Linked DNA regions of Homo sapiens: region 1 is linked to region 2. Evidence: fine-mapped expression QTL. A gene starts in region 2. The other region holds a variant in brackets. All regions are shown on one strand. Distances are between the middles of the regions. Region 1 overlaps LIMD1 (LIM domain containing 1). Region 2 holds the start of LIMD1 (LIM domain containing 1).

What was found. PIP is the estimated chance that this variant, and not a neighbour inherited with it, causes the effect.
Region 1: its variant is fine-mapped to the expression of LIMD1 in whole blood (TOPMed, PIP above 0.99).

The regions. Positions count from the first base shown.
Region 1 is chr3:45,669,112-45,677,390 of GRCh38, forward strand. It overlaps LIMD1 (LIM domain containing 1), which reads left to right. Exons shown (of 8, transcript NM_014240.3): 5 at 3,579-3,709; 6 at 4,343-4,394; 7 at 5,232-5,300; 8 at 7,811-8,279. The coding sequence ends at 7,948. Among named protein-coding and RNA genes, the nearest start is that of LIMD1-AS1, 16 kb to the right of the region's middle. The variant G/A (reference allele first, on the strand shown) is at 5,085.
Region 2 is chr3:45,590,356-45,598,680 of GRCh38, forward strand. LIMD1 (LIM domain containing 1) reads left to right here and starts at 4,396. Exons shown (of 8, transcript NM_014240.3): 1 at 4,396-5,932. The coding sequence starts at 4,525. RefSeq lists silencers at 3,403-3,872, 3,883-4,012 and enhancers at 4,103-4,272, 6,768-7,267.

The DNA.
Region 1 (8,279 bases), 79 kb after region 2:
CAGCAGAGCAAGGACCAGGTTTTATACATTCCATTCTTTGCTCAGTCACTGGCTCTCTGAGGTTATTTTGGGCTTCAGGTCTTCAGTGGGGACAATTTTTCCCTAGAGGGTTAGGTTATGAGGTTAATGAATACAACATCAAATTGTTCACCATTGGAAACCAGCCTTTAAGAAGTTCTTTAATATACTGATCAGAGGAAATGATTATATAACATACTTTAAGTTGGAAACAGTTAAGTCCCTCTCTAAGCTGACTCATTAATTTCATTCTAGAGAAGATAATTTCTAATTATTAGTATTTTTAATTTTACCTTTTTATTGAGAAATAACTCATAGAGTAAAAGATACTAATCTTAAGTGTACATCTGAACGAGTTTTCACATGTGCATATACCCCTGTAACCACCACCCAGATCAAGATATAGAACACTTCCCAAACTCCAGAAAGTTCCTTCTTGTCTATTCCCACTCAAGACCCCACTCCCACAAAGGCAACCATTATTCCAACTTCTATTGCCAGAAATTCATTTTGCTGGTTTTGGAACTTCATATAAATAGAAACATATAGTATAGACTCTTTCAGGTCTTATTACATATGTTTTTGAGCTTCATCCATGCTGTTACCTGTATTGGTAGTTTATTGATTTGTATTGCTAAGTGGAATTCCATTGTATGGATATAGCACAATTTATTTCTCCATCTCATGTTGATGGGGATTTGGTGGTTTCTAGTTTTTTGCTATTTATGCATGAAGCTGCTGTGAATACTCTTGAACATGTCTTTGATGGACATAAACACTCATTTCTGCTGGTTATATGCTAATATTTATAAAACATCAGTGACCCACAGCCCTCCCCATTCGTGATGAATATCTGCTATCTCCCAGGCTTTGACAGACCTCAGCAGAGGTCTTAGCCCTATTAGAGCCATGTCCTCATTAGTAGCCAAGACCTCCCTGGGAAACGTGGCCCTTCCCCCATGCTCGCAGTGGGAGGTAGGCAGAAGCTACATATGCTTACCTCTCCTTCCCAGGTATCTTCTAGACTCTGTAGGGCTCTATTTCTTTAGCAGAATTTGCCTTTGTTTTTAGTGTCCTTCTGACAAACCTACTTCATATGAAGTCAACATGCTCTGAATTTATGAGTATGATTATACCCTATTCTTAGTTCTAGTAATCCTAAGACTTCTTTGGATAACCTCAGGGTATGTCATTTATCTATTGCTGCATGACAAACCACCCTAAAACTTTGTAGTTTAAAACAATAGTGATTTCTTATTTATCATCATGCTTCATGCTGTGGGTCAGGATTTAGGTCAGGGTTTAGCAGGCCAATTCTTCTGCTCTGTGTGGCATTGGCTGGGGTCTCCTACTTAACTTTGTTCAGCTGGTAGCACAGTTGAACTGGAACATCCAAGATGACCTCTCACCCTCCAGGCCCCTCTCCCTGTAGCCTCTAATCATTCAGTAGTCTAGTTCAGACTTCCTTACAGCAAGAGATAGGAAGTGGAAGCTACCAGTCTTCTTAAGCCTTTGACTCAGAAATCTCAGAACATTGTTTCTTCTGCTTTCTGTTAATTAAAGAAAGTCACAAAGCCAGTTCTGATTCAAGGGGAGGGGGAAATAGTCCCCATCTCTTGATGTGAGATCTCTACCATATGGGATAGTATGAAGTTGAAGCTTCAGTCTTTCAGGTCTTCCCTAGGACTTGAAAACTTTTAGTGAATGTCTAGACAGAACCCCAGCTGTCTAACTCTTTGTGTAAATTGTCTCTCTATATACCCTTTTGTTAATAGAGGGGTACATTCTGGGCTTGCAGGTTAGAACCAGGCATAGTCTCACATAAAAAAAGTATTACAGCTAGTCACAATGCAGCAAAATGGCATCTTTTTCTAATCTTACTTTAGGCACAATGTGGATTAAATTAATTTAAGGATCTCTTTCTGCCAAGACAGCATTCATCTTGGGGAAAATGCATTCCAAGGTCCAAATTGCCAAATGGGTTTTGGAAGCCCAGCCAGTTGTTCTTCCTGTTTTGCCTTACTGCAGATTGAGAGGGCCCTCAAAGGTTAGGGAAACCCAAGAGGGAATGAGGAAGCTTGAAAGCTGAGCATTCAGAGGAAAGCTGGAATAGCACAACGCCCTCCTCTTGCCTTCTTGGCTGGAGCTTGTGCAGTGTGGAGTTATCCGCCTGAGGCTTCCAGGGGAAGGAGCTGTAACACAGCATATCTTTACCCCTGGGTCTCACAGTGTACTGACAAGGCTTCCCCAAATCCAAAATCCCCTTTCTTCAGCCTGTTTGAAGGCTTTCTGTGTGGGCTCCCACTGCTGGATGCTGATGACCGTTCTGTACATTCTTTGCAGATGCATGTTTTGGTGTGACCTTGCTCATGTTGATTCTGTAGTTCAGTTGTTTTTGCTAAGTTTCATGATGCAGGTAATTGCAGAAATGAATCTCCTATTAAGTCAGTGAAGATGCTTTCAACTGCAAATTATAGAAAAAACCCAGACTCAGTTCGAGTTAAACCAATGATCCTCCAACTTTAATATATATCAGAATCACCCTATTAAAATACCAACTGCTGGGCCTTACCCCCAGAGTTTCTGATTCAAGAAATCTGGGATGGGGTCCAAGAATGTGCATTATTAACAAGTTTGCAGGTGATGCTAATGCTGAAGGTCTGGGGCCACACACATTTCGAGGACCACTGACTTCATAGGAATGATATTTTATCTCACCTAAAAAGAGGCTTGGAGGTATGTGGTTCCATGATGAGTTAATTCAGTTACTTACGGACCTCACCAAGGATGTTCTTTCCATCTCTTCTCTTTCCTGCTGTCCATGTCTTGGGTCTGTCCTGGTTTCAGGTTGGCTCTGGCAGTTCCAGGTATCCCATCCAGATCCAGATTAAATGACACTGAGAGGAAGAAGTTTGTGGGGCTTTCCCTCTATTGCGTTTAAAAACAACAACAGAGAAACTTTACTTATTACACTTGGATTTGAGGTCATTGGGTTGAGTCAGAACTTCTAGATTATCATGCTCCAGAGTCAAAGCTGCATAGAAGGGGCATCCAAGAGGCAGAAGTGAAGGGGTTCCTTTTGAGCTCTGCCATTTCCACATGGAATTTCTTTTCATTTTTCCGAGTACTTGCTGCTTCCCAAATCTGGGAAGGATGTATCCTTCTGTGGCCCTGCTTTGCATCGTTTCCCACTTCTTCGTGGTGGATTTTGGCCCTGGGATTGGCCCATCCCTTCCTTACCATCTCTTTCTCTTAAAGAACTATGCAAGAGTTTCCTGTTCTGGGTGAGGGTTGGAAAGGAGCCCTCTTTCCCTGCCAGCTCAGAGACCCTGTGAGAGGCTGCAGGAGAAGGATTCCTGTGTGGTCTCTTCTGTGTATTCATCTAAACAGATTTGCCTTTCCCACCCCATCACCTCTTGCTCTTCTCCTAGGTGAAACTCGGGGGTAAGTGTACTCTGTGTGTGACTGCTCATGTAATCCTTAGGCCTGATGTGTTCCTCTCCCCTTCCACCATCTCATCCTTCCCTATAATCCCCACTGAGTCTTGGTCTCTGCTCCAGATCCTGCAAGCCCTGGGGAAGTCCTACCACCCCGGCTGTTTCCGCTGTGTCATCTGTAATGAGTGTTTGGATGGGGTGCCCTTCACCGTGGACTCAGAGAACAAGATCTACTGTGTCCGAGATTACCACAAGTAAGAAGGGATGGGAGCAGACAGGACCCATTCGTGTAGGCCAAGCTGATCTCAGCAGAGTGAGTGGTGGAAACCGACAAAACTGTGTTTGCCAGCCGCCCTTAGATCACAGTCCAGCAAAGGCTTAATGGTTTTGAGGGGTACAGCAGGGACCTTGGGAGGTTGGTCGATGCCAGTGTTGACAGGAATGGGTTAAAGAATCATGTTTAGTGAAAAAAAAAAAACAACAGAGCACAGAAAAACTAATAATCATATTTGTAGCTAGGCCTCGGGAGGAATCCACCAAGCCCTGTGGCTTCAGCGTTACCTAACTTCACAAGGCCCCTATGCAGTGCTGGTTCCTACCACTCTTGGTTTGCCTGGGCCTGTGCTAGGCACCATGAGAGGTGTAAACAAATCAGTTAGTGCTGTCCCCAGAAGAGTGAGAGGCAGCCAGTGTCCTCATTGCAGCTGGGGAGCAAATACTAAGGCATATTCCACAAAGTGAGCCAGGTACCAGTCATTCTATGAGGGAGGAGAGCAAGGGGCAGGAGGCGGCATGGAGGAAGGCTCCATGTGGATTCCAAGTGCAAGTCTGACTCTGGAATTTGCTCCCAGAAGCAACATTTATTGCTGCTTTGTTTCTCCCCACAGGGTGCTGGCCCCCAAGTGTGCAGCCTGTGGGCTTCCCATCCTTCCACCTGAGGTAAGATGCCCTTCCAGACATGCTCCCAGGGGCTTCTAAGACATGAATATCTCCCTGGGCTCATTTACAAGATCCATGTCCTGTCCTTACAGCTTTTAAGGTATCCTTTTAAAAATCTCAACTCTGGCCTGGTGCAGTGGCTCACGCCTGTAATCCCACCCCTTTTAGGAGGCCCAGGCAGGAAAATTGCTTGAGGCCTGGAGTTTAAGAACAGCCTGGGCAACATAGCAAGACCTCATCTCTACAAAAAATTGTTAAAAATTGGCCAAGTGTGGTGGCATGTGCCTGTAGTCCTAGCTGCTTGAGCCCAAGAGTTTGAGGCTGCAGCGAGCTATGATGGTGCTACTGCATTCCAGCAGGTGACAGCAAGACCTTGTCTCCAAAAAAAAAAAACCAAAAAAAACCCCACTTCACCTTTGAGATAAGTCGTGTCTTCACCCTTCCTTGTTGACTGGCTTCCCCAACCCAGTACCCTTCTTGTGCTGATTTGTCCCCATAACCAGGTCAAACTCCCTTACTTGATACTAATTCTTAGATTAGCAGATGAGGAGAAAGGCTTGTCTTTTCTTCATTTTTTAAAATAAGTGTCCATGTAGGTCTTTCTTTCAGTGTTAACTCTGACATTCTAGAAGGAAGGACTCCTATCCCTCCTACTTCCCCTCTCATCAGCTTAAATGTATTCTTCTTCCA[G/A]TAAGTACTCCTGATTTACCTTCTCCTCCCAAGGCCACCTACTTGTTACCCCCAAAACCCTCTTCCCTCCCCACCCCACGGTACATCAAGCCCGACAGCCCCCCTAACAGGCCTCTCCTATGTGTTCTTGCTTTTCTCTGGTCCCAGGGCTCAGATGAGACCATCCGTGTCGTGTCCATGGACAGAGACTACCACGTGGAGTGTTACCACTGCGAGGTAGACCCCTCCCCACCCAGCCCCCAAAGCCCATTGTAGACATCCAAGAGAAAAGCATCCTGCGTTGACTGGGGCAAGAGGCAGTCAACAAGATTCTGGCAAGGGTCAGCCCTCTAGAGCTTCTGTAGGAAATGGAATGAAGGCTGGTTCTTGGGGGAGGTAGGAGAAGATGGAAATGCTCAAGGTATAAAGGTCTTTCTTCTGCATATTCAGAACTATCAAGTCCTGCAACTGTTGGAGCTGCTCTCCCTGAAGCTGCAGAGCTAGGAGGGTCGTGGAGAGCATGGGTTTCAGGTCCTATCTGCGGGCCACATTGTCAGGCAGGTGTGCGATTTGGGGAAGGGACTCCCTCCCCTCCAGCTTGCAGGCTGTTCTATCTGCCTGAAGCTCCTTTCTCAGCTGAGCCCTGGAAATCATGAAGCCCCTCTTGGAAACAGGCATGTCAGCTGGTGGTGTGAAGGCGGGTGGGGTCCGCCTGCCCCTTCCTGCCCTTTGTCCCAACCCAAGATGAAGGAGCACTAGTACCTGATGACTGTCAGGAAAGCTAGAGGTTGCCCCTCACCAACCCTTGTGAAGGGTGACCATGGAATTTCAGCCACAATTAAGTGAATTCACCCATGGAAGGAGATTAGATTCATTTGGTGACCCTGTGGGTAGAGAATGGGGGTGTCCCTCATATAGACTTGTCCCACTGCCAACACTGAAGAAATGGGTGGGAATCATTGCTGCTGGGACCCCAGGTGCCCCAGGTCACTGCAGGAGAAAAAGGTGAGGACATTTGCTCAACAGGCCTCTCCACATTTTCTAGACCAGTGCTATCCAAAAGAAATATAAGGGGCCGGGCGCGATAGCTCACGCCTGTAATCTCAGCACTTTGGGAGGCCAAGGCCGGCAGATTACTTGAGGTCAGGAGTTCGAGACCAGCCTGGCCAACATGGCAAAAACCCATCTCTACTAAAAATACAAAGATTAGTGGGCGTGGTGGCACACGCCTGTAGTCCCAGCTACTCGGGAAGCTGAGACAGGAGAATTGCTTGAACCTGGGAAGTGGAGGTTGCAGTGACCTGAGATCATGCTACTGCACTCCAGCCTGGGCAACAGAGCAAGACTCCGTCTCAAAAAAAGAAAGAACTATGAGAGCCACAAATTAAAGTCATGTATCATTTTAAGTTTTCTGGTAGTCACAATTAAAACGTTAAAGAATTATGAGAGCCACAAATTAAAGTCATGTATCATTTTAAGTTTTCTGGTAGTCACAATTAAAACGTTAAAAGAAACCGGTGAGATTAATTATTTTATTCGGTTCAAAATATCCAGCCAGGCATGGGCCCATGCCTGTAATCTTAGCACTTTGGAAGGCCGAGGCAGGGGGATCACATGAGCCCAGGAGTTTGAGAACAGCATGGACAACACAGTGAGACCCTGTCTCTACTAAAAATACAAAAATTAGCCAGGCATGCTGTGCCTATAGTCTCAGCTACTTAGGAAGCTAGGATCGTGTCACTGCACTCTACTCTGGGTGACACAGCAAGACCCTGTCTTAAAAAAGTAAAAAATCCTGCTGGGCGTGGTGGCTCATGCCTGTAATCCCAGCACTTTGGGAGGGCAGATCACTTGAGGTCAGGAGTTCAAGACCAGCCTGGCCAACATGGTGAAACCCTGTCTCTACTAAAAATACAAAAATTAGCCAGATGTGTTGGCGCGTGCATAATCCCAGCTACTTGGGAGGCTGAGACAGGAGAATTCCTTGAACGGGGGAGGTGGATGTTGCAGTGAGCTGAGATCGCACCACTGCACTCCAGCCTAGAAAACAGAGGGAGACTGTCTCAAAAAAGAAAAAAAAATCCAAATGTTATCTTTTGAACATGTAATCAATATAAAAAAGTTACCCATGAGATTTTTTTTGTAACTCCACAATTTATTTTATTTCTTCTAAAAAAAAAAAAGGGATACGTGTGAAGATTTATTACATAGATATATGTTGTACGTGTGCCAGGGTGGTTTGCTGCACCTATTGTCCCATCCTCTAAGTTCCCTCCCCTCACCCCCACCTCCCAACAGGCCCTGGTGTGTGTTGTTCCCCTCCCTGTGTCCATGTGTTCTCATTGTTCAACTCCCACTTATGAGTGAGAACATGTGGTGTTTAGTTTTCTGTTCCTTTGTTAGTTTGCTGAGAATGATGGCTTCCAGCTTCATCCATGTCCCTGCAAAGGACATGATCTCATTCCTTTTTCCCATGAGATATTTTTACATCCTCTTTTTGTCCTAAGTCTTCGGAATCTGCATTTACACTGACAGCACATTTTAAGTGGTTCACAGCAAGTGCCTTGTGGCAGTGTCTCCTGTGTTGGACAGGCCTCCACGGGGCAGGAGCTGTGTTTCTGCACTGGCATTTCCTGCCTATACAGAAACACACAGCACCCTCTGCTGATTTTGGGGACTGTGGCCTTCAGGTCAGTCTTGCAGTCTGTTTTGTTTTGCTTCCCCTGGACATGTCTGCCTCCCCACAGGACTGTGGTCTGGAGCTCAATGATGAAGATGGCCACCGCTGTTATCCGCTGGAGGACCACCTGTTCTGTCACTCCTGCCACGTGAAGAGGCTGGAGAAGAGACCCTCATCTACAGCCCTTCACCAGCACCACTTCTAGCCAGAGCCACTTGCAGACATCACGGCAGGGGATGAGGAGCCGGGGTTGCTGCTGCTGCTTCCGGTGGCCCCTGGGGTGGAAGTGGGGTAGGGGAAGAGGAGGGGCAGGAGGGAGAGTTCCTGTGAGCATGTGGGGGGTGCCTTTCCTTTAACCAGGGAGGTGAACACTACCTGCCTCCTGCGTGTATTTTCCAAGTGCTTTTCTCTGTTGCCACATTTTCCTCAGGTTACTCAGGAAAATGCTCCAGCATGTGCGAGCACATGACCTGAGGTTGCATCATAGCACCAAAGGAATCCTCCTGTCCCCTCTGGGAACATTTCATGCTTCAGAG
Region 2 (8,325 bases):
CTGTGTGAGCAAGCAAGCATGGGGTCTGGCCACTGCACACAGCCAGGCATGCCAGCTGTGGCAGTGCAGGCAGCTCCAGGTGCCAGCACGGGCACAGCTGTGGCTGGACCAGGCGTACCACAGGCAACTTCCACCGCTGGCACTGGGGAATGCGGTGGCACCTGGAAGCTTGGAGACACCAGGAACCGCAGAGCCCCAAAGAGGGTATCATAACCCTGGATTGGGGTGCTCCTAGGTCTGGGCTCCCCAAAGGGCTGCAGCTTTTCTCTCCTTCTCTCTTTTCTCCTTCTCTCTTCTCTCCTTCTCGTTGCCCACAACGTGGCAAGCAAGGGGTGTGTTTCAGTCCTGTTTGTGTTACAGATCTTTTAGTGCCACCATTTGCCCAGTGGGTCCCAAGTTCTTGTCCTGTGTCCACAAAGAATGAAGTATGCAGACAACTGGAGGGTGAGCAAGGCAGAAAGGAGCCTCACTGAGTGGCAGAACTGTTCTCAGTGGGTATCTCCTTTCCTCAGGCAGGTTGTCCCGATGAGTGTCCAGCTCTCAGTGGAGAAGAGACCCACAGTGGGTAGCTGCCTTCCACAGGCAGGTTGCCCCGATGTCTCTGCAGCCTTCAGCAGAGAGACCCAGAGTGGGTAGCTCCTATCTGCAGGCAGGTCATCCCATTGTCTGCCTGAGTCTGGCTGAGTCTGGTTTTTTTTATGGACTTCAGAAGGGAGGAAGTGTGTGCTGATTGGTCCACCGGCAGCCATAGGCAGGCCCAGGAAAAGCACCATAAATTCTCACTCCAGTCTGCAGGACTGATAGCTCAGCCCCTAGGTTTCAGGCTGTCCCTGTCTTGAAGGGGGCTTCACTGGGGACCCATCCCATTTCACCCAGGAGCCTGATTGCCCCCTGCTGCCATCAACCTGCTGGCCATGGCACCCATGGCACCCAGGCTGTTCATGCTGAGGGGTGCCTGCAGGTACATGCCGAACTGCCCTCAGCCTCACCCTGGCCTCCCTCCCATGCTCATCGGCACCCAAAGTCTGGAGGGGGCCGAGGCGGCAGGGGACTGGTGTGTCAGTGCTGCCCTGAGTGCGTGCACCCCCAGCTGGGTCGTGACAGTATCTGGGCTCAGCTTCAACTTTGCTCCAAAATCAGAATGGGCACCAGGAGAGGCCAGGCAACAGGAGCAGGCACTTCTGAGCCTGTGGGAGTAGGGGGGCTTTCTAGGTCCCCGGGAGCACAGGGATGCCCAGGTCTGCAGCCACAGCTGGGTGGATGCAGCTGTGCCTGGGAAGGCAGGGCTCCCGCCCCACCAACTCAGAAGGGAGTGGGGCTCCTGCCTGTTCCTAGCTCCTACCAGCTCTATGGAGCATGCAGTCACGGCCTCACCTCGCCATTGCAGCTAGCATCATGGCAGTGGCTGCTCCAGATGGACCACTGCTGCCATCACCAAGATAGGATGAAAAGAGAAGACAAATGTAAGAGCACTGGTTGGTGTCTGTGGCTCCTGCACCAGGGTCCCAGCTGTCCAAACTGAAAACCCAGGAAGCTGGCTCTGAGCTTACTGGACTTTGCAGAGGGATGGCCATATATTCCTAGCACTTTGTCAGCTACAACTGCCATATTTGGAGGTCAGGCAAAGTGAGCCAGTCTTCCACTCCAAAATCCAGTTTTTAATTAATAAGTATTACCCAACACCTAAGGAGTGTTTAATTATGATTACCTCTGAGAAAGGGGATGGTAGGCAACTTTTAAAACTTTATATATGTCTGTATTGTTCAAAGTTGTTATAGAAACATGTATTACTTGTAGATAAAAAACCAAAAAAAATTTTTTAATAAAAATACTTCATTTTAGTATAGTGCTTTATAGCAGTGCTTCTGTAACTTTATTGTGCAAATAAACCGCCCAGAAATCTTGTTAAAATGCAGATTCTGATTCAGTAGGTTGGCAATGGGGCCTAAGATTCTGCATTTTCAACAAGCTCCCTGGTGATATGGAGTCCATTAACCATACTTTGGGTTTACGGCAGCGGTCCTCAATCTTTTTGGCACCAGTTTCACAGAAGCCAATTTTTTCACAGACGGGATGAAACTGTTCCACCTCAGATCATCGGGCATTAGATTCTCATAAGGAGCGTGCAACCTACATTCCTCATGAGGGTAGTTCATAATAAGGTTTGTGCACCCCTCTGAGAATCTAATGCCACTGCTGATCTGACAGGATGTGAAGCTCAGGCGGTAATGCCAGTAATGGGGAGTGGCTGTAAATACAGATGAAGTTTCGCTGGCTTGCCTCCTCTCACCTCCTGCTGTGCCACTCAGTTCCTAACAGGCCACAGACCAGTACTGGTCAGTAGCCCAGGGGTTGGGGACCCCTGGTTTACAGAATATAAAGCACATTCATATATATTATCTTATTTGTTCTCTGTCACAACTCTGGCAGATAGGGGTTCACTAATTCACTTATTCGACCATTAGGTACTACTATTAATATATACCAGGCACTTGGCATACAGATATGGTCAAATGGAGTGGGAAACCTACCACCCAACCAAACAAAAAAAAACGCATGTTAACCAACAAATAAATAATTATAAATAGTTATCAGAACTGAGCAGGAAGTAAAGAGGGTGCTGAAAAAGAACAACAGGAACCACTCTGAGGAGGCCTCTAAGAGGAGGTGACTTCAGCAGGGATGGGAAAGATGAGCCACTCAGTTTAGGGGCAAGCTCTGGGCAGACACCAGGAAGCTCCTGCAGCTAGAGTGCAGGGAGGGAGGGAAGATCCCTAGATCTGGCCCAGAAGGCTGCGGCAAGGGGCCGATTTCAATTTAATTCTGGGGTAAGCACTGAGGATTTAGGTAGAGAAGTGTCTGTTCTAGTATTTGCCTTAGGATCACGATGGCTGTAGTGTGGGAAATGAAACCTCTCCAGGATCGCCTGGGAACTGGTATAGGGAGTCCCGGGCCATGCGGGGGCGCCAAGGAGTCAGGCCTGGTGTCCCTGCAGCCGCGCGGATCCACTTGCAGATGGGTCCCTCTACGAATAACGAGCCTACTAGGGCACGTGCTTTTACTGCTGCACTGAGGACGTGAAATGCGCGCAGGCACAACGAGACTTTCTTCTTTTTCGCTCTTTCAGAGGGCCCGGGCTCCCATCTACGCTTTGCTGGTTACGTTGGCATGTTGGGCATTTCCCCCTCTCTGCCTCAGTCTCCCGACCTGTCAAAGAGGACGGTGGGCCAGCCATGGGTGACACGCCCGTGCGCCTCTCCAATAGTGCACCTCGGGCAAGCCGGGCGGCGGGCACAGCCTGGACGGTGCCGGCCTCGAGAGGCACAAAGGGCTGGCTTTCCACCGGGGAAACTGAGGCAGTGGAGCGAGGAGCGGCGTCCTCGAAAGTCCTCGCAAACTCCCAGCGCCTGTGTTGGGCCCATGCAGGCTACCCAGGCCGCCCGTCTCCGAGCGGAGGACCCCGCCCAGCGCTGCCAGGGGCGGGGCCGGGCTGAGGACCCGAGGCTGGAAGGGAGGTCGGAGCACCCAATTCGGTCCAGGACTCGCAGGGGGCGGCAGTGGCGGCGGCGAAGTCCCGTGCAGTCCCAGTGCTAGAGCGTGGGACGGACTTGTGGGGCACCCCTCGGTGTTCTCCAGCCAGGCCTGGGGGCAGGAGGCCCAGCCACGCTGCCGGGTGCAGGCCTGCCCCTGGGCGCCCGCCCGCGCGCCGTCCCCGCCCCTCGGCCGCCCCCTCCGCCCCGGCGCGGGCTCGGGACGTGCAGAGCCGGCGAGCGAGCAGCAGGGACTGCGCCTGGCGCACTCACTTCCGCGTCCCGCCGCCCTCCGGCCCGCGCGCGCCGATCCGCCGCCGCCATCGGACAATGGGCCGCCAGCCCCAGCTGCCGTGAACTTCCTGCCGCTGCTCGGCCGCCCGTGCGTCCCGGACGGCGTTCCTGCCAGGCGCCGGCCGGGATCGCAGCTCCGGGGAAGCAGCGGAGGACCCAGCGCCTGGAACGTACCTGCGCCTCAGCCGCCGCGCGTTTGCTCCGGCCCGACTCGCGGCCTCGGCGCCCTCCCGGCCGATTCAGCTTCACCCGGCCCAGTCGGCTGCTGCCTTGCTGTGAGTTTCCGTGTTTGGTTGCCTAAGGAGGATGTGATTTTACTTTTTTGCTGTTTTCTTTTTCCTTTTATAATTTGAAGAGGAGAAAAGAACTCCGCTGAGCAGGCCCGGGACGGCGAAGTGCCACCAGCTACCCCAACAAGGACGTCTCCAGGGGAAAGGGAGTTGGAAGCAAACTTGGTCCAGCTGGCGTTGAGGTCTCAACTTCGGCTGGACTCTTAAATCCTGGGGTCATGCCCTTCACGCTAGGCAGGTGGAAGTCTTTACTTGTACTGGGCCGGACTTGAGCCCCGACCCTTCGCCAGCATCTCCCCGCTGCCCTCAACACACACACACACACACACACACACACACACACACACACACACACACACACACACACACACACACGGCACCTGGGCTAGGCCCGGACACCTGTCTGCAGCATGGATAAGTATGACGACCTGGGCCTGGAGGCCAGTAAATTCATCGAGGACCTGAACATGTATGAGGCCTCTAAGGATGGGCTCTTCCGAGTGGACAAGGGTGCAGGCAACAACCCCGAGTTTGAGGAAACTCGCAGGGTGTTCGCCACCAAGATGGCCAAAATCCACCTCCAGCAGCAGCAGCAGCAGCTCCTGCAGGAGGAGACTCTGCCCAGGGGGAGTAGAGGCCCTGTCAATGGAGGGGGCCGCCTGGGCCCACAGGCCCGTTGGGAAGTTGTGGGCAGCAAGCTGACTGTGGATGGTGCTGCCAAGCCTCCTCTTGCTGCCTCGACAGGGGCACCTGGGGCAGTCACCACCCTCGCTGCTGGGCAGCCCCCGTACCCACCGCAGGAGCAGAGATCCAGGCCATACCTGCATGGCACGAGGCATGGCAGCCAGGACTGTGGTTCCAGGGAGAGCCTGGCGACTTCTGAGATGTCTGCTTTCCACCAGCCAGGCCCCTGTGAGGATCCTTCCTGCCTCACTCATGGAGACTATTATGACAACCTCTCCTTGGCAAGCCCAAAGTGGGGTGACAAACCAGGAGTGTCCCCCAGCATCGGCCTGAGTGTAGGGAGTGGGTGGCCTAGCTCCCCGGGGAGTGACCCACCACTGCCCAAACCCTGCGGGGACCATCCCCTAAATCACCGACAGCTCTCCCTGAGCTCCAGCAGGTCTTCTGAGGGTAGCCTCGGTGGTCAGAATAGTGGCATTGGTGGCCGCAGCAGCGAGAAGCCAACAGGCCTTTGGTCCACTGCCTCCTCCCAGCGGGTGAGCCCTGGCCTGCCTTCCCCAAACTTGGAGAACGGAGCACCAGCTGTGGGGCCTGTTCAGCCCAGGACCCCTTCTGTGTCAGCACCCTTGGCCCTGAGCTGCCCCAGGCAAGGAGGTCTTCCAAGATCAAACTCGGGGCTGGGGGGTGAGGTTTCAGGTGTGATGTCCAAACCCAATGTGGACCCCCAACCCTGGTTCCAGGATGGGCCCAAATCTTACCTTTCCAGTTCTGCCCCGTCATCCTCGCCAGCTGGTCTGGACGGTTCACAGCAGGGTGCGGTCCCTGGGCTGGGGCCGAAGCCTGGCTGCACAGACCTTGGCACTGGTCCCAAGCTCAGCCCCACCAGTCTTGTCCATCCAGTGATGTCCACCCTGCCTGAGTTATCTTGTAAAGAGGGTCCCCTGGGCTGGTCTTCTGATGGTAGCCTGGGATCTGTGCTCCTGGACAGCCCCAGCTCCCCTAGGGTAAGGCTGCCCTGCCAGCCCCTCGTCCCAGGTCCTGAGCTGAGACCCTCTGCTGCTGAGTTGAAATTAGAAGCCCTCACCCAACGTCTGGAGCGAGAGATGGATGCTCACCCGAAGGCTGATTACTTTGGTGAGTGAGAGGCTGGTGGAGTTGCCTATGGTGGGGCGATGGGGTTCTTGAGATTGGGGAACATGCCCCCTACCAGGGATGCTGTGGGCTGTAGTTACCTCTCTTTGAGTGGCCTGTTTTTTTATTTTTTTGTTTTGGGCTTCCTCTTTCAGCTGCTTTTTCTGATTCAGAAACTTGAAAGCATCCTGGGGCAGAAAGCGGACCTTGCAGCTGGGGTTACCCATGTGTGAAGGGTGCAGCAGGGTGGGATTGCTCATGACTGCTCTCAGAAAAGAGAAATGCTGTGACTTTGGATTTCAAGGGTTTTGGGTGTGACTTTAGAGCCTCTTGCAGTGACAGGCTCATATAGGACTTCAGTGGGACCAGCTTTCTCAGGGGCAGCTACCCCTGAGCGTTCAGTCTGTAGTTGGTTGGGCAGATCTGGTTGATCTGGCTGTTTGAGGGACCAGTGATTGAGGCAGGGGCTCTTGACTGCCGTGTGTGTGTGTCTGTGTGTGTGTCTGTGTGTAGATGGGTACTTATGTGCAGTTGAGGCAGGTCAAACACTACCATGAAAGACTTGTAGAGCAGTGGATCTTTTTTTTTTTTTTTTGAGATGGAGTCTCGTTCTGTAGCCCAGGCTAGAGTGCAGTGGCACAATCTCGGCTCACTGCAACCTCCGCCTCCCGGGTTCAAGCAATTCTCCTGCCTCAGCCTCTTGAGTAGCTGGGACTACAGGCACGTGCCACCACACCTGGCTAATTTTTTTTTTTTAAGTAGAGACAGGGTTTCACTGCGCTAGCCAGGATGTTCTCAATCTCCTGACCTCGTGATCCGCCCGCCTTGGCCTCCCAAAGTGCTGGGATTACAGGCGTGAGCCACCGCGCCTGGCCAGAGCAGTGGTTCTTAAGTGTAGTCCCTGGATCAGCAGCATCCCTTTGCCTGGAAACTGATTAGAAATGGAAATTCTTGGGCCCCACCCAAGACCTACTGAATCAGAAACTGTGGGATGGGACCCAGCCAGCCGTGATCCTGCTGTGTGGTGAGATTTGAGCCCTGCCGCACCATGTGCCTCCTAACCCAGCCTACACCCAGGTAACAGCCAACAGCCAGGTTGCACCACAGCCGTGGCACAAACTATGATGGAAAATGTGTCTTCCTGGTTTTACTCAAACTTGCATGTTTTGTTTTATTCTCTTTTTTAAAACCACAAACTCTTGGAGACTGCTAGCTTCAACTTTTTTTCTTTGCACGAGGTTTAGTGGTAGTTGTATCTTTCTGTTGAGTAATGATTAGTTGTCTCATAAGAGAGCTAACTAGAAAGACAGCCTATTCGCAGAGAATCGGAGGGGTTTTTCTTTTTCAGTTTTTAACTTTGGATAATTGACCCCCGTGTTCCCCATAGCCTGAGTCCTGCTGGGGTAGCAGCTCTGCCTAGTGGAGGGCAGGGACAGGGAAGGCCCTGGGAGAGGAAGACAGCTGGCTTACTGCTGTCAGTCTACGCTTATTCTCCGTGAACGAGCAAGTGTCCCAAGGTCCTTTGAGGGACCAGGGTCTGAGGCACTGGGCTGCTGGATGTGTGCAGCTTATGGTAGCATTGTGTTTTGCTTCTCATGAGAACCTTGTGGGAGCCAGTTCTCACCCCATACTCAGCAGGCTGAGGTCAGGGTAGCTGTTTATGGCTTACTTTTTTTAAATTTATTTTTATTTATTTATTTGTTTATTTATTTATTTATTTTGAGACAAGGTCTTGCCTTGTTGCCCAGGCTGGAGTGCAGTGCACCCTAGACCTCCCGGACTCAAGGCATCTTCCTACCTCAGCCTCCTGAGTAGCTAGGACTACTTAAGAGGAAGCAGGGGAGGAAGGGGACGTGGAGGTGGGGGGTCCTCTCTAGGTTGCCCAGGCTGTTCTTCTGGGCTCAAGTGATCTTCCTGCCTCAGCCTCCCAAAGTGCTGGGATTACAGGTGTGAGCCACTGTGCCCGGCCTACTGGTTTATTTTTTAAAGCACATGGCACCATCTTACTGTGAACTATCTTTTCTCCTCAGCACATTCCCACATTTGGGAGTAATAGTTAGCTGGAAATACTGTGGGTCTTTTAATTTAAACTTTTGTTTAGTTGTAAATTTCAAGCTCATTGGACAACACAAACAGCAGTTTTATCTTGAGATGCAAGTTTATGCTGTGCATCAGAGCAACGGTATTAGCTGACGCTACTCATCCATTCAGCATATATTAAAATTTATTGAGCACCTATCTTGAGGCCATGCTCTATTCCAGGTCTTGGGGATACATAGTGAACAGGACAGACAGGAACCTCTGCCTCCCTGGAGCAGACAATGTAGTAGAAGGAGGCAGGGAGTGAATGAAGTAAATAAGCAAGTACTAGGGAGAGAATCAAGGTAGAGAAAGGG